Homo sapiens: one gene and its partners. The protein of the gene in region 3 interacts with the protein of the main gene of each other region in a biochemical or structural test. Each region holds a gene or a part of one and is shown on either strand. Other genes may lie near its edges.

Evidence for each region. The genes of interacting proteins can lie anywhere in the genome.
Region 1: the proteins of SREK1 (region 3) and SAFB form a complex in vitro, tested with the Homo sapiens proteins (one study listed by BioGRID).
Region 2: the proteins of SREK1 (region 3) and DDX17 form a complex in vitro, tested with the Homo sapiens proteins (one study listed by BioGRID).

Annotation. Positions count from the first base shown.
Region 1 is NC_000019.10:5,618,302-5,626,368, forward strand, and holds the start of SAFB (scaffold attachment factor B1), read left to right. Parts: upstream 1-4,781; 5' UTR 4,782-4,904; coding exon 4,905-5,093; intron 5,094-8,067. Other genes in the region: SAFB2 (scaffold attachment factor B2), read right to left, coding at 3,008-3,095, 4,229-4,414. UniProt on the Homo sapiens protein: Binds to scaffold/matrix attachment region (S/MAR) DNA and forms a molecular assembly point to allow the formation of a 'transcriptosomal' complex (consisting of SR proteins and RNA polymerase II) coupling transcription and RNA processing.
Region 2 is NC_000022.11:38,496,026-38,503,601, reverse strand, and holds part of DDX17 (probable ATP-dependent RNA helicase DDX17 isoform 1 precursor), read left to right. Parts: intron 1-2,321; coding exon 2,322-2,472; intron 2,473-4,102; coding exon 4,103-4,202; intron 4,203-5,028; coding exon 5,029-5,162; intron 5,163-5,451; coding exon 5,452-5,517; intron 5,518-7,576. UniProt on the Homo sapiens protein: As an RNA helicase, unwinds RNA and alters RNA structures through ATP binding and hydrolysis.
Region 3 is NC_000005.10:66,167,774-66,175,349, forward strand, and holds part of SREK1 (splicing regulatory glutamine/lysine-rich protein 1), read left to right. Parts: intron 1-2,277; coding exon 2,278-2,397; intron 2,398-2,811; coding exon 2,812-3,174; intron 3,175-7,172; coding exon 7,173-7,268; intron 7,269-7,576. UniProt on the Homo sapiens protein: Participates in the regulation of alternative splicing by modulating the activity of other splice facors. Inhibits the splicing activity of SFRS1, SFRS2 and SFRS6. Augments the splicing activity of SFRS3.

The DNA.
Region 1 (8,067 bases), on a different chromosome or scaffold from region 3:
CAGTGAGCCGAGATTGCACCACTGTACTCCAGCCTGGGCAACAGAGCGAGACTCCGTCTCAAAAAAAAAAGAAAGAAAATTAAACATAAAAAACCTGCAGGGTCTACACCTCAAGAGTCTCACTCACCACTATTATCAATAATCACTCAAGAAATGCAGTTTAATTGCATGTCTCGCAACGTGAGCTTTTTCCAGTCTATCATTTAAGACGCCTAACAACGCTAGCAGGTTTTATTATCTGCATTTGACACGAGAATTTGGTTGAGCTCCAAAGCTGGCACTCTAAAACTCAGCTGTCCCACTTCGCATTATATCTAAACACAGCATATCCTTTTGAAATACGTTGTCTAAAAATGTTTGGTAATTGCACCCAATTTCTAGGCCCCTAAATAGTAGCCTGCAGTGCCCACATAGGCCGGAAATAGGAGAAATGCTGACCAAAAAGCATCACAGAAAAGCTAATGTGGCGCAGACAGGCGACGCCCCAATCCCCGGCACCTGGCATTGGCCAACGAAAAGCTGCCGCTGCTGGGGACACAGATGTAAGAAAATCCAACTTTAATCCCACATGGCATCTAAAACTTAAATTTTTAATCCAAGTTTTATTTTTTCCAAACCCACCTACAATGTTGCCTAGGACTCCTAATCTTGGTGAAGACCCTTACTCTGATTTATAATGAGGACACTTTTCCCTCAACAAGTTTGGCTACTTCAGTTTTTGCAAGGAAGCAGTTACTGGTGAGTTCCCAGAATGAGTCCAACTTTGGACTCAACTGAACACTGCTGCATAGTGCTTGAAACGAAAATTAACTGGTGAATTCCTCCTGATCTAACAGTTGTATGTAATCACAGGCCCTAACTGCAACCACAAAGTCCTAAGGCTCTTGTGCTTTATCCATTAGCCACGTGCCCCGACACCTCTAGAGAACATCACCAGCTCAGGATGGAAGATGAGGCCTGCAGGGCCTGAGCACCACCTGAAGACCTGGGCTCTCTCTGGGCTTGGTTACTTCTCTGAAAAAGGAATGGGAAGGGATCAGAAGCCCTTCTAACCCTCACTAGAGCTGAGGCTACAAAAGTCCTTTTTATAGCAACAGAAGAACTTTATCATCCAAGCTTTCCTGACAAAACACTAACTCCAAGTAGTTTTGAATCCACCTAAGCTTTAATCTAGACATTCAGGCAGGTCTTCAAAGCACTCAGCTAAAGTTTAGTTTTTCTAATGATGCAAAGATCATTAGAAATGATCCCTGCTAGGCCGGGCACAGTGGCTCATGCCTCTAATCCCAGCACTTTGGGAGGCCCAGGCGGGTGGATCACCTGAGGTGAGGAGTTCGAGACCAGCCTGGCCAACATGGATGGTGAAACCACGTTTCTACTAAAAATATAAAAAAGTAGCTGGGCGTGGCGACGGGCACCTGTAATCGCAGCTACTCAGGAGGCTGAGGCACAAGAATCACTTGAACCCGGGAGGCGGAGGTTGCAGTGAGCCAAGACCGCACCACTGCACTCCAGCCTGGGCAACAACAGCAAAACTCCATCGCAAAAAAAAAAAAAAAATCCCTGTTAAATTCCTGCTAAAAGCCAAGGATATTTTGAGTAGTAAGTCTTGAACTTTACAGTTTTAAAATGAGCACCTACATAAAAAACTTTTAAACTTTATTGTTAAGCAGTTTTCCCAACCACTAAAAAAAGAAAATTCACATCATGCATAAGTTAACACCTAAACAGAAGAGATAAACTATATTTCCTGCGTAGACCAGTCTCTCACATTCTGAATGTGCTCAGGCTGGGCCTTCTAGGTGAAATACGGACACTCACAAGAACAGCAAAAACGCATCCATGTGTCAAAATTAAACTTTAACTTAAAGCTCTTATGCAACCTAACTAAAAGATTTAATCTTTCAAACTACATGCACATGTTTTAAACAGTTAATGTGTTATGAAACACATTAAGAAGAAAAAGCTATTAAAAAAATGAAATTGTTAAAAATGCTACAATTTCTTTCTACTTTCTAAGCACTGATCCTCCACTGCCTGAATTTAGCACTTTTCCAAGAAAACAGGCCCCCTGCACAGGAAACCTAAATTATATTATCCTTATCACCATAAAACCTAACAATACCAACTGGGATAGTCAAAGCTTCAAAGTTTTATGGAATTCAATGCTTTCAAAAATAACTGGTATCAGCCATAAACAGGAATGAAGTATCAATACATGTTACAACACAGATGAACTTTAAGCATTATGCTACGTGAAAGCTGATGCAAATGGCCATATGTTGTACAATTCCATCTACATGAAATGTCCACAATAGGCAAATCTATGCGGACAGAACATGGATTAGTAGTTGCCAGGGGCTGGAGGGAGAAAAGTAAGGCGACTAACTTCTAATGAGGACCGGGTTTCCTTTTTGGGTGATGAAAATCCAGAAGGAGACGGTGGTGGTGGTGGCAGAGCCTTGTGTATACACTAGGAAGCACTGAATTGTACACCTTAACCTGATGAATTTAACGGTCTGTGAATTAAACCTTCACATTCAAAAACCGTAATAGTAAAAAATAGGCTGAGTGCAAATACCCCAACAATCTACTTTGGACCCTAGCAAAGCTGAGTTCTATTCGGTCTCAGGTTGGTGTCCTTTTCTTTGGGTTAAGACCTATTTTTTGAACCAGGAAGGAAGCCAAGTAGGTACATTTGGTTCCTCAGACCCGTAGAAGTAGCTTTAAGAGCTTGTCTTTCTCTAGTTGACTTTTAATCCCAATGGCAGAAGCTGAAACGTTTTTCGTATATTTTAATTGCACTTGGCACCTGTACATCTCTTTCCTCCTCCCTGTGCCCTTGACAGAGCTACCTGTTAGGTGGTGACGAGCAAAGCTAACTCTTAGTGGAGGGACACCGAGTACCAGAGAAATTCTCCCAGCCTAGAAGGCGGGAAGAGCACACTACACACCATTTCTCTAAATTCTCTGAACACTCAAGCCCCAAGCAGCATATGTACAATACCTTTAACACATCTCTTGGCTGACTTCTTGCTGGTGGCTTCTAACTCGATGCCAATTTCATCAGGATCTTGCCCCTCTTCTTTAACCGCCTATTAGGGAGAGATGAGTTTTACAACATCATTAAGAGCTGCAGGGCACACACTGTTCCTTACAAGTAACAACCTCCCATGAAACAAAGGCAAACCCGTCCTTGCAAAGAGCAACTCCGGGTCAGCTATCTGGGCCGCAAGCCCAAAAGGCGGAGGAGGAACCCCGCACAACTTGGGTCTCTCTGGGTCCAAATGACAAAGGAGAGGGAGGCTGTGAGCAGGAGCTCCAGAATTGGGGTCAAGGACCAGTTCCAAAATGGCAACTCAACTCGACAATGCCAAACCTTCGACTTTAAAGTTATATGATGGGACAAATTAGAACAGAGAGGCTGCACTTGGCCCGGCCTCGGTGAAGGGCTGGCCACCGCTGGTGAGGAGGAACAGCAGCCAGCCTGGGGAGATTCAACAGGTCCCTCAGTGCCTGCCACCTGCCGGGTCCAGGACTGGGTACCCACAAGCTCCCTCCCTATGCTCAAGTTGTTTGTTCCAGTTGCGGAAACAGACAATTCCCAACCCCTTAATATTTTGCATTTAGCCCCTGCTTTCAGCGAGGTGCGACACAAACGCAGGATGAGCTGGCAAGGAGGTGGGGCAGCGCATTAGGAAGGGCGCTCAGGAAGGTGATGTCTCAGGCAGACCCAAAATGACAACAAGGGGCCGGCCACGAGAAGATCTGGGGGACCCGGGTGGACAGCTTCGTAAAGGCCAAAGCCCTGGGGCAAGAACAAGCACCGCCCCCTTTCCTGTAAATGCTCTGGAGTCCGCCAGACACCCATTCTCCGGAGGAGGAAACTGAGGCACAGAGAGAAAGGCACCTGCCCAAGGTCACAGAGCCAAGGCTCGATCGGGAGCCCCAGGAGGGGTCCCGGGGCCACCCTGGTAGCGGAGAAGACCGCACGCTGAGCGCGCTTGAGGAGAAAAGGTGGAAAGAGGATAGGAAGGGAGGCACAGAGAGGAGCGGTGACGGGCCAAGGTCACACAGCCGGCCCCCTGGGTGCCCGACACCTCGAACCGGGGTCGGCCAAGACGCGGGGCGAACCCAGGGCGCCCCGGGTCCGGGAGCCGCGGTGACAGGTGCAGGCGGGGGCGTGCCCGGGCCTCCTGCGCCACCCCCGAGCCCCGCGCCGCCTCACCTTCTTGAGCCGCTCCATCAGGACGCTCTTGTTGCCGCCCGTGTCCAGGTTCCGCTTCTTCAGCTCCGCCCGCAGATCGATCACCCGCAGCTCGCTGAGCCGCCTCGTCCCAGTCTCCGCAACGCCCGGGCCGAGAGAAGCCGTGCCAGGGCCCGAGTCGCCCGACCCGGGCAGAGTCTCCGCCATCGTCGCGTTCCCGTCTTCGCCACCGACTCAGTCGCACACCGCCGGCAGCTATAGCGGCTCTGAACACAAAATGGCGCCGCCTAAGAGGAAAACGCACTCGTTTCCTCCCGCCCCGCTTTGCGGCCGCGCACGCGCACGCGCACCGCCCCCACTAGCGTACTTAGCAGCAAGGACGCTCGCGCGTCCACCAACCGCGGGTTCCCCGGCACAACGCGCAAGCGCTGAATCTGCAGCTCGCATGCGTCCCGGCAGTTCCCGGCGGGAGGCTGACGAGACGCAACGCGTCTGCGCACATCCCCGCGTTGTTCTCACTGCGCATGTGCAGTTGCAACCGGGATACTAGAACCTACGCTTGGTGCGCCTGCGCAGAAGCGAGGCGCGCTGGGGCGACTGGAGCGGTTCCCTCGCAGGCGGCGCCATTTTGTGCTAGGAGCCTGATAAAACCGGCCCGGTTCTGTGGAAAGTGGGCGGCGGAGCCAGGGTCCCTGGAATGGCGGAGACTCTGTCAGGCCTAGGTGATTCTGGAGCGGCGGGCGCGGCGGCTCTGAGCTCCGCCTCGTCAGAGACCGGGACGCGGCGCCTCAGCGACCTGCGAGTGATCGATCTGCGGGCGGAGCTGAGGAAACGGAATGTGGACTCGAGCGGCAACAAGAGCGTTTTGATGGAGCGGCTGAAGAAGGTGGATTTGGGGCCCCGAGGGCGGGCACAGGGTGGGTCTGGGGTCCTCTTGGCCGCGACGGTGGCTCGCGGGCCCTGGCGTCCGCCCCCGGCCGCGTTCGCGGCCTCGCCGGACCTGGCGCTCTCGCGTCCCCCGGCTCCTCCGAGGCCCCGGAGAGAGTTCCTTGGCCGGCTGGGCCTGGGTTCAAATCCTAACGCCGCAATGGGGCCAGGAGAACCACAAAAACGGCACGCGTGCAGGAGAAACGGTGACGGGTGACATCGTCCACTGAGAGGAGGGTTCTCCCCTCGTCTCGTCCCCTCCTCCGTACCTGGAGGGGAGACCCTGAAACCCTCACTTCCCAGGCGAGGGGAAGGGACTCGGCCAAGGTCACACGGCCGAGGACGGGCAGCGTCGGGATTTGAACCCAGGCCCTGGGATTCCTGATTCGGCTGCTTGGTTTCCCCAGGGAAGATGCTTTGTGACCCACAGGGGACCGACCAGCCTGAATCGGGGCTGATTTACAAAGGAAACACCCGTAGGACATACTCAAAGGGAAAAATAGAAAAAAACCCACCACAATCCAGTTTTCACGGTTTGCCGGTACTCGCTCGGTGAAGTAACGTGGCAGGAAGGAAAAGTGGTGTTGACGGTAGTGATCAGAAATGTGAAATGAGGGGAGACCCCGGGTGGACTTTAAAACCAGCCTCAGAACTGCCCGGGAGGCGGGCAGAGCCTGGGCTCCCCCAGCTCCGTCAGTCTCTCTGGACTTGGGGACCCTGCCAGCTCTCGGTGGCCTGATCTTGGGCATAGGAGACCTTGAACCCCTTCTGAGTCCTCTTTTCTATTCTTTTTTTTTTTTTTTCTCCTGTAAGAAGCAAAAAAGCAATAGGACTTTGATTTGGGGATTAAATAAGTTTGCGTGGAGCAGGCTTGGCGTGCTGCCTGGCGCATGTAAACACTCGGTGTGTGGTTGCCATCACGATTCGCTTTTCCTCTCTGTGCCACCACGAGTCCTCATTTGCAGATCGGGGGCTCTAACGCCTCCCTTGGGGGATTCAAAGGGATCCCTAGGAAAAGCAGAGAGGCAAGTAAAGGTTAGCCACCTGCGGTTTCCTTATTCCTGTAGCTTTTTTTCTCTGCCTTTTTTCCACCTGGCTACTCTGGGACCTCTCCCCTGTAGTTGCTCCGCCTGGCCGCCCACCCCCCAGCCCCTGCAGGCAGTGGGGCTGTTGACACATCCCACCATCCTGACTCCGGAACTACGGAGATCACAGGGCTTTATTATTAATTGGTGATGAGAAGAAGTAGGGATTTTTTTTTTTTTTTTTTTCCTGATGAGAAACCCTGGGCTCAAGGGTGGATAGTTGTCTCGGCCAGAGTCACATGGGCCTTTTAAAAGCTCAAGCTTGTGTTTCTTTTCACTATGGATTCTCTTTACTCAGATAAGGCAGGAAGCCCACTGATCTACATATTTACCCAGAGAAAATGCAGAGAGTGGAGATTGGCGGCTGGTCAGGTGTGGTGCCCCGCCACCAGGGCCTCCCATCAGCTAAGCCAAATTAAGAGGCTTTATCCTTTTTTTCTCCCTGGACGGTCCATAGGCCTGAAAAGCTGCTGTGATCTTCCTGTCAAGCTGGTGACTGAGACTTCCCATCACTCGCTGTCATCTCTGAGAGCACAGATTTGTTCCTTCTTCCTTCTCCTTTTCATTTTCTTCAAGATGTGGTCCCAAAACACGAATACCGCCAGCCCATATCCCTGTCTGCCACTCACCCAAGCCAGTCTGGAGTTCCTGATCTCATTCTCTTCCCGTTTCTGTCATCCTGTTGGTGTCCCTTTCTTGGTTTATTTTTCCAGGAAGGGCAAAAGAACAAAAAGGGGAAACAGGACACCTGCCTAGGGCATTGCTTCTCTTCTCCTGGTGGTGTTTCAGAATTGCCTGTCCCCGGGAAAAGGGTGAGGGACTTGGTGATTGTACTTTTCCTTGATCCCAGGAAAGAACTTCAGTCCCTTTTCTGGCTTCTGAGAGGAGAGATTTTTGTTGCTGCTGGTAAAGATGAGATGTGGAACCCCCAGGCCCTATCTCAATTCAGACTTACCCACCTGGGAAACTTGGAGGCTTCCAAACCTCTGCAGATAAAACATAGTACATGAAATGATGTAAACAAAACTTGTGCTCATGGGACTGGAGAGTAAAGACTGGAAAAGTTATCAGTAAAACTTGACCTGAAGCTAAGTTTCTAGGGACGTCATCGTGATTGACGTGTTCGGTACTGATGGCTTAGTTGATGCCAGGCACTGTGCTGAGGATGGGCATAGTTGAAGTGAGTGACAGAGTCCTGGGGTGGGAGGCTGGGCGTGCCAAGAAATTCTTATAATTCAATATCCGATGAGGCACAATCACCTAGTGGTTGAGAATGAGGTACTGGAGTCGGTTGTGAATGTACATGATGGGGATCGGATGAGGTCATGCATGTCGTGACGGGTCTCGTGCGTAACACATAGTAGGATCCCAGTCAGCGAGCATTAGTATTCTGTCCACACAGTACTGAGTACAGGCACGGCGTGGAGGGAGTCCCTGGAGGGTTAAAGAGTATTTTGTGAGTAAAGTCAGGGGAAATGGAGAGTGTGCCTTTCCCTTTTTGAGTTCTTCTGGGCTTAGGAAGGAGATGAACCAGATAAGCCTACTGTTTGTTGAGTGCTTCCTTTTCATGGCTAGTAGAGTCCTCACAACAGCCTTCCAGGGTAAGTACTGTATTATTATTAGCCGCATGTTCCAGAGGAAGAAGCAAAAACTGAGCACCTAAGTAAACCTGCCTGGGACCACCCAGCTAAGAACTGGTGGCGTCAGTCGGTCTCCAGTGTAGAGCGAGATAACAGATGAGTGGATGGGCCACAGGTCCTGGGTGGTGAGGGCGGCAGCAGCTTTTTGATCTTAAAAATACAGTTTCCTTGTCACCTGAGAGCTCTCTGAAAGCAGTGTGTGAGCTGA
Region 2 (7,576 bases), on a different chromosome or scaffold from region 3:
TATGCTCAAAAGTAAAAGGCTTTCTTGAATTTTGAGGTCATTAATTATGTCAGCATTAATTATAAACATGGAAGACGGCATATTTTCCAAGAACCACATGTTTCAAATTAAATGTTTAGTGTAGAATAGAATGTCTTGAATAAATAGCCAGGGAAGTAAGGAGAGAGGAAAAAAAAATACATGAATGATAATCATCAGTTTAAAGCCTTAACAGGAATCTTACTTTCAAGTTTTATTTTTTCCTAAGTCACTAAGGTTTGGGTAGCATTGCAATGTGGCAATAACAATGAAGTCTTTTATAATTTGCAAGAGTGATAATCCAAAGACTTTCTACCTCTTGAAAAGTACCTTATTTAGCTGCTTCATTTGCAAGTGTGGCGGGAGCGGCAATTGAGGTGGCCTTTTGGTCTGTTCAGTATTGAGTCTTAAGCTGAGGGGCATATTAAATATGTCGCTGACACGGGTATCCCTATGCTATGTGCTCTTCCTGTTCTGATTCTTAATTTGTCTTCACTGTCTCAGTAGTGGTATAAATGGAATTAGCCAAGTTCTGCCTGTTGAGTGTAGGTATCCAGTGATCCCAATAAAATCTCCTGCCATCAATTTTTGTTACGTATGTATTTAGAGGAATGTCTGGCTGGTTAAGCCAGAGTTCTAATGGCTTTGAATTGCAGGAAATTGAGGCCCTGTAGAATAATACACCTACTTGCCTATCAATGATAAAGTGGAACTTTATATAAGATGAAGTTACAAGTGGGTTAGAGTGGGAAAAGGGAACTAAATTCAGTACAATATTTTACAAGGAGTAAAGAAACTGAGAAAATGCTATACAGTTTGTATGCCAAACAAAGACCTGTACTTTACAAGATCGAAATAGGGAAAATTAAGGCCATCTTAGTGTTAAGATTCTTCTAGGAAAAGTAGCTTCTGATTTCTTAAATATTAGCTTTGGCTAGTGGTCATATTTGTATTCCTCTTGAGCTTGTCTGTTGTGAAAGGTATATAAAAAGCAAGAAGTTGATCTTAAGTAATTAGTTGAGTGTTAAAGCCTTAAATAAGTCTTGTTAGTGTTTTTTTCTCTGTAAATTAATAATACCATTTGGGAACAAGAAGGAGATAGAAGGTAAAAGTAGAGATCAAAGAAGAAGGAAAGGTCATAAATCTATGTTCAGCTTTTTTTTTTTTTTTTTGACGGACCCTCCCTCTGTCTACCAGGCTGGAGTGCTATGGTGCCATTTCAGCTCACTGCAACCTCCGCCTTCCGAGTTCCAGCGGTTCTCCTGCCTCAGCCTCCCAAGTAGCTAGGGATTACAGGCGTGCACCACCACGCCTGGCTACTCTTTTGTGTTTTTAGTAAGAGACAGGGTTTCACTATATTGGCCAGGCTGGTCTCAAACTCCTGACCTCAAGTGATCCACTGGCCTCCGCCTCCCAAAGTGCTGGGATTACAGGACTGAGCCACTGCCCCCGGCAGGCTCAGCTCTTTTATTAGCGTAAGCTAAAAATGAAGACCAGTCTACCAGTCCTTTCCAAGACCCAGTTTTGCTTTGCAGATAAGCAGACAGGTGGAGTGCTTATCACAGTTTAATAGGGGAGCAGGCCCAAGAAGCTATTCTAAGATTGAGGGACTTGCTTGGAGTGTATCTTCCTTCTTGTCCACAATCTTCCCTTTAATTGAAACTTAACTTAATGTCATCCTTTGCCTGCATGTCTGTTACACAAAAATAGAGACTTGTGTCTGTTTTGTTTAGTAACTCCAGCACAGCACCACTTCAAACAGTAGCCGATACATACTTGGTACCTAGTAACTTGGTACCTAATAACTATTTGTTGAATGAAATGATGCTAACTTGTACTGAGTGCTGGCTATGCCAGATACTTTTATAGTACATTACACATTATTAGGTCATTTTCTCAGCAGCCTCTGAAATAAGTGGTATTATTTCTACTTTGCATAGGAAACTAAGGTGTGTGGAAGTTAAATAATTCTCTTCAAATTATACAGTAAGTGGCAGAATAAAAACTCAAACCATGTCTGGATCCAGAATCTGTGATTGTAATCCCTAGGATGTATTTCTCTCAATAAAGGGATTTTTAATTTTTTGCCTATTGTAGCTATATTCATAAACAGTATTTATTGTTGGGTAGTAAGGGAGGTTTTACACATTTCTCCATACCTTTAAATCACAGCAAATAAAATGGTCTTTTTGGAGGTAGGCTGGTAGTATCCCTAGAACTCCATCCTTTTTGAATATTCTTATGGCATGTACGATACGTTGCTTTAAAAATACTGATGAACTAACTAAAAATTCTGTTCCTAGATTTGGAGCAAGAGGTGGTGGTGGCCTTCCCCCGAAGAAATTTGGTAATCCTGGGGAGCGTTTGCGTAAAAAAAAGTGGGATTTGAGTGAGCTCCCCAAGTTTGAGAAAAATTTTTATGTGGAACATCCGGAAGTAGCAAGGCTGACACCAGTAAGTTTACATGTGTGTTTTAATGTACAGATTATTGAACCAAGTAGATATATTGGTTAGAGTTTATTCATACGCTACTGTTGCCGTTTTACATTTTATTCTAGTGTGGTGATATTTTTCTTAAAAAATTTTTTGGTTAATTTTTTTTTTTTTTTCCTTTTTGTAGAGACCGGGTTTCGCCATATTCCCCAGGCTGGTCTTGAACTCCCTAGCTCAAGCAAACTACCTGCCTCAGCTTTTCAAAGTGCTAGGATTACAGGCGTGAGCCACTGCACCCAGCTGATTTTTTTTTTTTTTTTTTTTTTTTTTTTTGAGACGGAGTTTTGCTCTTGTTGCCCAGGCTAGAGTGCAATGGTGTGATCTTGGCTCACTGCAACCTCCGCCTCCTGGGTTCAAGCGATTCTACTGCCTCAGCCTCCCAGGTAGCTGGGATCACAGGCACCCGCCACCATGCCCGGCTAATTTTTTGTATTTTTAGCAGAGATGGAGTTTCACTATGTTGGGCAGGCTGGTCTCAAACTCCGGACCTCGGACCTCAGGTGATCGACCTGCCTCAGCCTCTCAAAGTGCTGGGATTACAGGCGTGAGCCACCACGCCCAGCCTCTTTTTATTTTTGAGACGGAATCTTGCTCTGTCACCCAGGCTGGAGTGCAAGAGTCAGGGTTTCACCATGTTGATCAGACTGGTCTCCGTCTCCTGACCTTGTGATCTGCCCGCCTCAGCCTCCCAAAGTGCTGGGATTATGGGTGTGAGCCACCATGCCCAGCCTTTCTTACATTCTTATCTAAGACCCCTAATACTCATAAAAGGGGACCAGTTTAAATATGCATTTAATTTGTTCTCTTGTTGATAATGCTTACTAATCTGTTTATTATACATGATTGAAATATTGTATATTAGGTCATGTTTTTTCATCTGTTAGTGAAAAAGATAGATTGGCTTTTTTTTTTTTTGAGGTGAAGTCTCACTCTGTCCCCTAGGCTAGAGTGCTGTGGCATGATCTTGGCTCACTGCAACCTCTGCCTCCCAGGTTCAAGCAATTCTCCCACCTCAGCCTCCCGAGTAGCTGGGATTACAGACATGTGCCACCACGCCTGGTTCATTTATTATTTATTTTTTTTTTTTCAGTAGAGACGGAGTTTCACCATGTTGGCCAGGCTGGTCTCAAACTCCTGACCTCAAGTGATCCACCCACCTCAGCCTCCCAAAGTGCTGGGATTACAGGTGGGAGCCACCGTGCCCAGCCAACATTGTCTCTTCTTGTACCTCATTACCATTGTTTTTTGGACTCTACACATGAAATGGTTACTCTTTCAGAAGAAAGTGTAATGGAAAGAGTACTTGGGTCCAAGTTCCACTTTTTTTTCCTTCTCATTCTGACCTTGAGCAAGTTACTTATCTTTTTTCTCCTATAGAAAATGGAACTCTTAATCACCTACATCATTAATTAACTTACAAAGTAAGTAGGAGCCTTGCAGAGTTAAAGTGATACACATGAAAGTACCATGTAAACTATTAAATATTTGCCAACATAGCTGTGGACTGGATAATTGCTCAGCTAGCTTGGAACATAAATTCTGAATGTTTAGAATAACTAGTTTACTAACTTCTTTCATTTTTTTTCAATAGTATGAGGTTGATGAGCTACGCCGAAAGAAGGAGATTACAGTGAGGGGGGGAGATGTTTGTCCTAAACCCGTGTTTGCCTTCCATCATGCTAACTTCCCACGTAAGTGTTCTTCAATCTAGAACCTTAATTTGTTAAATTGGGTTGAATGGGAGACAAGGGTAGTAGGTTAAACTCTTTGAGCCAGGCTTGGGGTTTTGTTGAAAGGACAAGAGATTGTTTTTATGGTCATCAGTTCTGTTCTAGTATTTAGACTGAGGTTTTGTTTTTGTTTTGTTTTTTTGAGGTTTTTGTCTTTTTCTAGGGTTTTGCCCTCTGCCTTTTAGAAAACAGCAGAATGAAATTGCTTTCTAGCTGGATATAATGTGAATTTGCTAAACAATAAATGACTACCATGTTCCCATGTCCTGTTAGATGCTTTAGGGTAATGGTTTTTCAAATTTCTGGGAGAGGTAGACTATTGTAGCAGCTTTTGTTTGTTTGTTTTTGGAAACGGAGTCTCAACGTTGTCACCCAGGCTGAAGTGCAGTGGCGCGATCTCAGCTCACTACCTCCTCTGCCTCCTGGGTTCATGCGATTCTGCTTCACCCTCCCGAGTAGCTGGAATTACAAGGGCCCACCACCACTCTGGCTAATTTTTGTATTTTTAGTAGAGACAGGGTTCACCATGTTGACCAGGCTGGTCTGGAACTCCTGGCCTCCACTGGCCTCAGCCTCCCAAAGTGATGGGATTACAGGCGTGAGCCACCTAGCCTGGCCCTTAGAAGCTAACAGTGAGTTGGTCGGAGATCTAGTAGATAAAGAAAAAGCACTTTGGAGAGATGAAGCTGGGTAAATCTTATCTTCAGTGAGCTTAAAAGTTTTTTTAAAAACTCTTGGTTTGTGTCTTTAAACACAATAAAATACGCAAAATAAAATTCTCTTACAGAATATGTAATGGATGTGTTGATGGATCAGCACTTTACAGAACCAACTCCAATTCAGTGCCAGGGATTTCCGTTGGCTCTTAGTGGCCGGGATATGGTGGGCATTGCTCAGACTGGCTCTGGGAAGACGTTGGCGGTATGTATGAGCAAGAGAAGATCCTTGATATTGTGGTAACTTATTTTGCTATTCTAGTTGTCATACGTTCTCAGTTCTTCGTAGAAGTGCCATTCAGATAGTTAGATACTATTTTAGTTATTAAATATATGGAAGCATTTTATGTTCAAATTTGTATTGCTTCCTGTATATAGCAGTGGTAAGTTCTGTTTTTCACTTTCCTATTTATGCATTAATTCAGTAATTACTAAGTATCTAAGTAAGATTGTACTTCTAAGCGTAAGGTTGTCATTCTTTCCCCCCTCCACAGTATCTCCTGCCTGCAATTGTTCATATTAACCACCAGCCATACTTGGAAAGGGGAGATGGCCCAATCGTAAGTGTGTTTCAGTTTCTTTGTAATTCTAAGAAAAACTACAATTTAGCGACTATTTAGGCTTGGTGCTTTACATTATCCATTTGTACTCTTAACCACACCCTCCATAGGTGGAAATGGTTTCATTCTCATCTTACTTGGAATTAAATGACTTACCCAAGATCACTCAGCAATTGAATAGCTGAGCTTACATTTGAACCAAAGTCTTACTCTTAAAGAAACCATGCATGCTGTATGGGCATTTACTGTGCAGTAAATCAAGTGTTTTCTGGTTTTGGTGTGGTTTTTTTTGTTTTTTTGTTTTGATTTTTTGTGTTTTTTTGAGATGGAGGTTCGCTCCGTGTTGGTCAGGCTGGTCTCAAACTCCTGACCTGAGGTGATCAGCCCACCTTGCCCTCCCAAATTGCTGGGATTACAGGCATGAGCCACTGCGTCCAGCCTTCTTTCTTTTTTTTTTTTTTTTTTGGAGATATATTCTCACTCTTGTTGCCCAGGCTGGAGTGCAGTAGCGAGATCTCAGCTCACTGCAACCTCCGCCTGCCAGGTTCAAGCCATTCTCCTGCCTCAGCCTCCCGAGTAGCTGGGATTAAAGGCGTGCACCACCACTCCCAGCTAATGTTTGTATTTTTAGTAGAGACAGGTTTGCACCATGTTGGCCAGGCTGGTCTGGAACTCCTGACCTCAGGTGATCTGCCTGCCTCGGCCTCCCCAAGGTGCTGGGATTACAGGTGTGAGCCACCGCGCCTGGCATTGAATGTGTACTTTTTTTTTTTTTTTTTTTTTTTTTGAGATGGAGTTTCGCTCTTGGTTGCCCACGCTGGAGTACATTGGCACAATCTCGGCTCATTGCAACCTCCACCTCCTGGCTTCAAGCGATTCTCCTGTCTCGGCTTCCCAAGCAGCTGGGATTACAGGCATGCGCCGCCACACCCAGCTAATTTTTGTATTTTTAGTAGAGACGGGGTTTCACCATGTTGGCCAGACTGGTCTCGAACTCCTGACCTCAGGTGATCTGCCTCGGCCTCCCAAAATAATGGGATTACAGGTGTGAGCCACCACGCCCGGCCTACTTAACTTTTTTAAGAAATAAGCTTGCATTTGTCCTATATATTTATGAACATGTACAATATGTCTCAAGATATTCACAAAAAGAAATAATGCAGTACTTATAATACATAGTATATGTCTGACAGCATTATTATTAGTTGATATCTAATGGATCAGTATATAAAGCAAGTTTCATAATTTAATTTGAATGGTATATGATACCTTGATTTTTGTATTATTTGGCCAGATTGTACACAGTCTTGTCAGATTACATGTAAATTTTCATTGTTTTTGCCTTATCTACCTGGTGATGTGCTTAAATTAGAGGTCAGGAATGTGTCATTCTGCCAGTTTAAGTCAGGATGACCATCCAAAATTCCAAATTTTAGGCCAGGCATGGTGGCTCACACCTGTAATCCCAGCACTTTGGGAGGCCAAAGTGGGCAGATCACATGAAGTCAGGAGTTCGAGACTAGCCTGGCCAACATGGGGAAACCCCCATCTCTACAAAAATACAATAATTAGCTGGGCATGGTGGTGCCTGCCTCTAGTCCCAGCTACTCAGGAGGCTGAGGCGCAGGAGAATCATTTGAACCCAGGAAGCAGAGGTTACAGTGAGCCTTCATTGCACCACTGCACTCCAGCCTGGGCGATAGAGTGAGACTTTGTCTCAGAAAACAAAACAAATCCAAATTTTGAGGACCAATATGATCCTCAAAGTAAATGCTTGCTGGAGCATTTTGGTTTTGGGGGTTTAGGATGCTCAACCTGTAAATGAGAGTTGTATACTTAAAACCAGGTAATACAATCTATATCTCCACTTAAACAGTATATATAAACTATAATGATTGATAATGTGTCATAGTAAAAGTGACGAGGATACCAGTATCATTCCAAATGCTAAACATGAAGTTCTAATAATTTTTTTCTATATTCCATTGTGCTAATATTCCCCACTTCTGATCTTCACCCCATCACTTTTAATGTGCTAGATTAGACAGCAAAGAATTAA
Region 3 (7,576 bases):
GGTTGGTGGAAAGCATTGCTTTGAGGAAAACAAAAGAATTATATTTTTAGCAAGGACAACTTAAAACAGAAATCTTATAGTAAGACTTTTTATTAAGTATGTAGAAGCAAAGGCACTTTAAAAGATTACCCTATGTGGATATCTGTAAACGGACTAATAATGTTCTCAGTTTTGCAGTTTTGCCTTAACATCTACTCCTTAACTTTCATGGCTCTTAAGTACTAGTGATAAAGATTTCAGCAAGCTATGAATTATCTTCTTGTATTAAAAACATGGTATGTGATTTCTTATCTAGGGTCTTTGGAAAAAAATAAAATAAAAAATAATGTGGTATGTTGAACCAAGTGAGGCTAAAAAAAAAAAATATGGAATGAAGACAATTGTATATTATTTTTACAGCCAAATAGTAGATGAGTAGTTTAAATGGAAATTAGCTATTGAAATTTTGATTTGTAATGTTGATTAGTATTTTAATCAGAATTTTGACTAACTGAAAAATGTGTTTAAAAACAAAAGATTTTGTTATTAATGAGGATTATTTGGAGGTTTTTCTGGTTTCAAAGCATACCACAAAACATGGTCTTTTTCTTTTTTCTTTTATTTTTTTGCGATAGAATCTTGCTGTGTTGCCCAGGCTGGAGTGCAGTGGAGCGACCTCAGCTCATTGCAACCTCTGCCCCCCGGGTTCAGTTGATTCTCCCACCTCAGCTTCCTCAGTAACTGGGAATACAGGTGCATGCCACCATACCCAGCTAATTTTTGTATTTTTAGTAGAGACGGGTTTCACTATGTTTGGCAAGGCTGATCTTGAAATCCTGACCTCAAGGCAGGTGGACCTCAAGTACCACCTGCCTCGGCCTCCCAGAGTGCTGGGATTACAGGTGTGAGCCACTGTGCCCAGCCCAACTATATTTCTTTTACTGATAATTGTTCTAAATTTATTAAAACATGACTATCAAGATGAGTTTTAGCTGTATAAAGGATACTTATAGAAGTTCATTCAGCTTCCTTGGAATACGTACATAAGGATATAAAGTTTACATTTATGTTAACTTTTAATGATGATGACATTGAGAGTTAAGATTTTTAAACATTTATTTTGTGCTAGAGAATACTACGCAGTTTTACATACATCATCAGTTGTAATCCTCATGACAGCCCTAAGAGATGCAGGTATGATTGCTACTCCACTTTATAGAGGAAGAAACTCAGGCTTGGAGAGGTTAAGTGACTAGCCAGAGTTCTCACAGGTAGCGTGTGGCAGAGCTGACTTTCAGAGCCAGATTGTCAGACTCCAAAGCTGTTGAGTCTAATCACTTTGCTATTTAAGTTGTGTACATCTGTTTTGTTACAATTTAATAAGCAGTTAGGATACCTCGTTATGAAAAAAATCACATTCTCAAAAAACTTTTTCAGTGAGAAAGGGGGCCTAGTCCAAATTGGAATAACAGTTACTTTTCCTGCAATTAAACGTTTCCTGCAGTTAACAGTTTCTTTTCATACAGGTTGAGACTCACAAATTTGAAAATCTGAAATTCAAAAGGCTTCAAAACTTTTTGAGCGCTTTCGTGATGCTCAAAGGAAATGCTCACTGGAGCATTTTGGATTTTTCAGTTGTGTGTTTGGGATGCTCAACCAGTTTTATGCGTGTGTATATATAGAATGCAAATATTCGAAAATCTCCAAAAATGTGAAATTCAAAACACTTTTGGTTCCAAGCATTTCACATAAGGGATACTCAACTGGTAGCTATGATTATAGTTACAGCTATAAAATCAAGGCATTGCAAATCCAATATTTGATTATATCTAGTTTTAACTTATGAGTAATGATTTTTATTTTCCTGTCACAGTGGCGCTGTCATTAGGACTGTGCTTCCTTTTATATATTCTTTTTGTTTGTTATGACAGACAGCACACATTCACAGGAACTACTCAACCACGTAACCACTACTCCCTGTCATGATGTGTTATGACCAGATTACATGCAAGTCAACAGGGAAAAATCTTCTATACTGATTTGAGGCATAAAATGACTAGCAAAAGCCACATCTGAAAATATACGAAATAACTGTTAAATTCTTTGTTTCTGTCTCTGTTCTAGACAATGAAATATCCGGTAAAGTTTCCAGTAAATGTATTTCAGATTATGTAACTAAAGTATTATTTAAGAGAAATTTTTAAAATATTGTTAAATACTGTTAGGATAGATTTTAAATTTTCTTGTTTGAAAGATCGTAAATTAAGTTTTGATATTCTAACAATTTTTTTTCTTTAGGAGTAGATCCCATAATAGATCACGTTCAAGACAGAAAGACAGACGTAGATCTAAGAGCCCACATAAAAAACGCTCTAAATCAAGGGAGAGACGGAAGTCAAGGAGTCGTTCGCATTCACGGTGAGTTTTAGAGAAATTAACAATAATTTTTTTTTCCTCAGAGTTCTGTTAGTGCTAAGGGATAATATTTTAATTGGCTTCATTTGTTAAAAATCTGTTGTGGTTTAGGTTTTTAATGAGAGAAATTAAACCTTTTTTATTGTTTTAGTAATCTAGGATTAATATTGATTGCCAGTGATCTGAATCTGATGTCAGTGTGACTCATGAGGTTTCCAAACTACTCAGTTCAGCTTGCGTAGTATGAATAGCTTTGTTTAGCAGCTTCTTGTACACCTGAGCTATATAAAAATGTATATGTAAATGTCTGTAGGTACTATAAATTGTCTTGTGTTGGTAATTGTTGAAGAGAGAGAGGTCTTTTTGGAGGAGGTAGAACTATTTTAGTTATGAATTTATTTATTTTTGTTTTTAAAGGGACAAGAGAAAAGACACTCGAGAAAAGATCAAGGAAAAGGAAAGAGTGAAAGAGAAAGACAGGGAAAAGGAGAGAGAGAGGGAAAAGGAACGTGAAAAAGAAAAGGAACGGGGTAAAAACAAAGACCGGGACAAGGAACGGGAAAAGGACCGGGAAAAAGACAAGGAAAAGGACAGAGAGAGAGAACGGGAAAAAGAGCATGAGAAGGATCGAGACAAAGAGAAGGAAAAGGAACAGGACAAAGAAAAGGAACGAGAAAAAGACAGATCCAAAGAGATAGATGAAAAAAGAAAGAAGGATAAAAAATCCAGAACACCACCCAGGAGTTACAATGCATCGCGAAGATCTCGTAGTTCCAGCAGGTTTGATAATGCTTAAAATTTTTACAAAGGGATTTGCTGATGACAATTGGAAACAAAATTTTTTACGGAGGGAGAAAAGGTTACTGTACGCAAGTGGAACCTGTAAAGTAATATAAGAACATTTTCTCCTAATTTCAGAGTAAACATTTCTCTAGCAGAGTGGGGAAAGAGATGATACTGGGCAACATTATTTGAAGAGTTTTAGCTATTCTTTGTAACCACTATTTTAATAGAATAATAATAATTGTTATTTTCTTAGAGGGTGGGATGGCAGGGAAAGGTACTTTTTTTAAAAAGCACATTAAGAATTTGCGTCTTAGGCTTTTTCCTGAACTTTTTTTGAATGGTGTGATTAATTTTAATATGTAAAATGATTGCTGAAGTTGCAGTGTTAGCCCTCTTTGTCACCTAAGTTAATTTTTATCCTTATTTTGTTAAGTGCATAACATTTAAATTTTGGTCGTGTTTTATTTTGTCAGTTTTAAGGGTTAGAGTTTTTCCTTAGGACCGTGATTTCAGTTTATTAATAGCTTTACTACCACCAGGTGGCAGCAAGTTGCCATAGTAACAGCTGTACAATGAGAACAACTTTTGAGATTTAAGATTATCTAAACCCACATCCTTTACTTCAGATGATACCATGACTGTAAATGGAAGTTCCTAACTTATACTACACTATCTTAAAAATACTAAATATATATATTAGCAAATTTTTGAAGATTTTTAAAGATGGTTTTTTAATAGAAAATAATTTGAGATAAAGGAATATATGTTTCCCATTTTTAAAACTTGTGCTTTAGTAGTTTATTTTTAATACCAGCCTTTGACTAGATAATAAAAGATAATCGTAGACATTTATTGTGCACTTTACTGTATGCCAGACATGATGTCAGTAGACTTTTTCATGTCTCACCTTATTTAATCCTCACAACAGGCCTGGGAGAAGATTATTATCATCACTGTTTTAAAACATGAGGAAGCTGACGCTCTGTATGAGAAGTATAGTAGCCCTTTTCCTTTATTTTAGAGATTAAGTTTGAGAATTCTCTAGTACTTGTACTTACTTTTAAAAACTACCTCAGAAGCATAAAGTTGAAAGCAGTAGTATATGTTAAAACAAGGCTCAAAATAAACAGATCACTGCTGGATTTCAGCACATTGAACCACAGATTGAAGAATTAATGTAACCTCCTTTGCTGTGGGTACTGGTTTGAGCCTTGTAACCACACCTTTACTGCAAAGTGATTTTATTGATTCTGTGTCACACATGCCTTTGTGTTTCTGTGATTGTTTAGACATTACCTTTCACAGCACCAAATACTATTTTCATTCCTTTTTAATAACGAATTTACTTTTTTTGATGACATGGGAATGTTTAACTTTTTCTCGGGCCATTTTAAGTTGTTTGGTGTAGAGGAAAGTTCAAGTGTTCACATTCATTCCTAAATATATATGTATATATTTTTTGAAACAGAGTCTTGCTCATCGCCCAGGCTGGAGTGCAGTGTCATGATCTTGACCCACTGCAACCTCCCCCTCCTCGGTTCACGTGATTCTTGTACCTCAGCCTCCCGAGTAGCTGGGATTACAGGTGTGCACCACCATGCCTGGCTAATTTTTGTATTTTTAGTAGAGATGGAGTTTCACCATATTGGCCAGGTTGATCTTGAACTCCTGGCCTCAAGTGATCTGCCCTCCTTGGCCTCCCAAAGTGCTGGGATTACAGGCATCAGTCACTGCACCTGGCTCAAATACATTCTTCAGTAACAACTGGGGCCTTGAGAATAAAAGATGACTGACATTAGTTTATAAAGGCAGCAGTTTGGAATGTTTCATGCTTTCAGAAGAGCTTGGTAAAGAGTTACAATTTCTTTGAATTTTTTTTTTTTTTTTTTTTTTTTTAGACAGAGTGTCACTTTGTCACCCAGGCTAGAATGCAGTGGCACAATATCTGCTCACTGCAACCTCTGCCTCCTGGGTTCAGCGATTCTCCTGCCTTAGCTTCCTGAGTAGCTGGAATTACAGGCGTGTGCCACCACACTCAACTGATTTTTGTATTTTATTTAATAGAGATGGGGTTTCACCATGTTGGCCAGGCTGGTCTCAAACTCCTGACCTCAGGTGATCCACCCGCCTCAGCCTCCCAAAGTGCTGGAATTACAGACGTGAGCCGCCACCGCCCCCAGCCAAGAGTTACAATTTCTTGTCTTTTAGCATTTTTCTGCTTTTCAAATGTTCTGATTTGTTTACTAAATGGAGAATATTTTAACTGTTCAAAAAATAGTTAATATTTTTATTTCTAACATTGTCTCCTAATTTATACTTTTAAAGAAAATGATATTAAATAATTTTTTAATGCTTAAATTTACTGTCATTAAAGGTGATACCAAGAAAGGGAAGGAAAAAACAATATTTATTGAGCACCTACTCTGTGTCACACTCTATGCTTTGCACATTACAGATTTTATCCTAAATCCTCAACAACCTAATAAAACTTGAATTATTAATTGTCTTTATTTTTCAGTTGAAAAACAGATTAGGTTAAGTAATATGATCCTGGTTGTATAGCTGGGTAAGGTGTATAACTCAAATTTAAGTCTAAATCTCACCAACTTTAGTTGTTAATACAATTTCTTTCTCAAGTAATTGTCTAGATTGCTGTCTATGGAGACTTTCCTCTCATTATCGTCAGCTAGTAGGTATTAGACATCCACTTGTACATAGTGCTTTCTGAACAAATAAGTAAAAGAATTACACTGATAAAGGCAGAGCGATTTTGTGTAATCTTAAAGTCTGGAATACGCTGACATTCACATGCTTTGAAAAAAGTATTTTTGGTTCTTAGGCTGAGCTGTTAAGAGAATGTCATTGATGTAATCAAATAATGTATCTAATTTCCACATTAGAAGTGTAATTGTGGAGTGTCTTGGGAATAAAAGTGGGTAATGGAGGAGAGAGTCTTAGGTAGAGGTAGAATTGAGTTGTGTTCTCAGAGTTCTTGAGCTTTGTATTTTAATACATATTATATATACCGTGTGAGCATTTTTTATTTTAGAAATGAAAAACTTAAATTATTTTATTAGTCTCTTAGAATCAGTTTCCTGAAATGGTAAGGATAACATGAATTCCAGAGGATTTGGTTTTTTAGCTATGTGGTCACTGATTATCAGAACTTGTGAGATAGATCATTGGGTATGTCCTCGTACCATATCCCTTAAATTATAGACCTAGTGAAGTTCATTGTTTCTGAGTTGAAGTAGTTTAGAATATGTATCATTTGCTAATCTGATAAGCAAAATGGTTTTTAATAATAATAACGTAATCTATTTTATAATTATTCCTGTCATATTTACTTTTCAGATTGTAACTGTTTTGCTTACATCTAAGCAACTTGTACACTAAATTTTAAATTAATAGAACAACAGTAATGAAATGATAGGAGGTTGGAGGGAAAAGCAATTTCTCTCTAAAATGATAGTAATGTAAATGCTTTTTAAGTAGACATTGTTGATAATTGGGTATAGAAAGTTCACATTTTACAAGCCAGTTTATGTTTCAGTTTTTGAAAAGGGCCTGTTACTTTGTTATAATCCACAGTGGGGCAGCAAGGAGCTAGATACATGACAAAGGATTTGATAAGCAAAACTTGTTTTAGCTGCTGAGAAAATACACTTGAGAGAAGCAGAAACGCCACGCCATTAATATTTTTTCTACTGAAGAAATTGTTCAAATAAACGAGGTGAAAAGGAGGAGGTCTTCTACTCTTCCTAATATGAAGTCTTAGATGATGTTTTCATCAGTCTGTAAAATTTATGGTTCATAATTTGACCCACTCTAAAGTTAGGTAATTGAACATGCTCATAAAGGACATAAGTTTAAACTGGCCTCTAAAGAATACTGTTCATATGAGAATATCAAGGACCCTTTTGCTTTTGTATATTTGAATTGCCGTTTATTTCAATTGCTGTTTTTAAAAATGATGTGTTTTTGATTTTCAGGGAAAGGCGTAGGAGGAGGAGCAGGAGTTCTTCCAGATCGCCAAGAACATCAAAAACCATAAAAAGGAAATCTTCTAGATCTCCGTCCCCCAGGAGGTAGGTTGGGAGCTTGTGCTAAAACTAAACAGGAGAAAGCAATAAATATTTTTTGAAATTTTAAATTTCTCTCTTTATTTTTTAAACTTTATATTTTGAATGAATAATACATATGCATTATTCAGAAATTAAAGATAAAAGTTATGTATCAGGAAGTCTTAATTTCCACTCTTGCCCATCTACACTGTTCCCAGAAGTAATGACTTCGTGAGGTTTTTTTGTATATGCTTCCAGTTTCATATACAGATAACAAGATGAGAATGTATCATTTTTTTCTAATACAAGAAGCAACACAGAATACACACTGT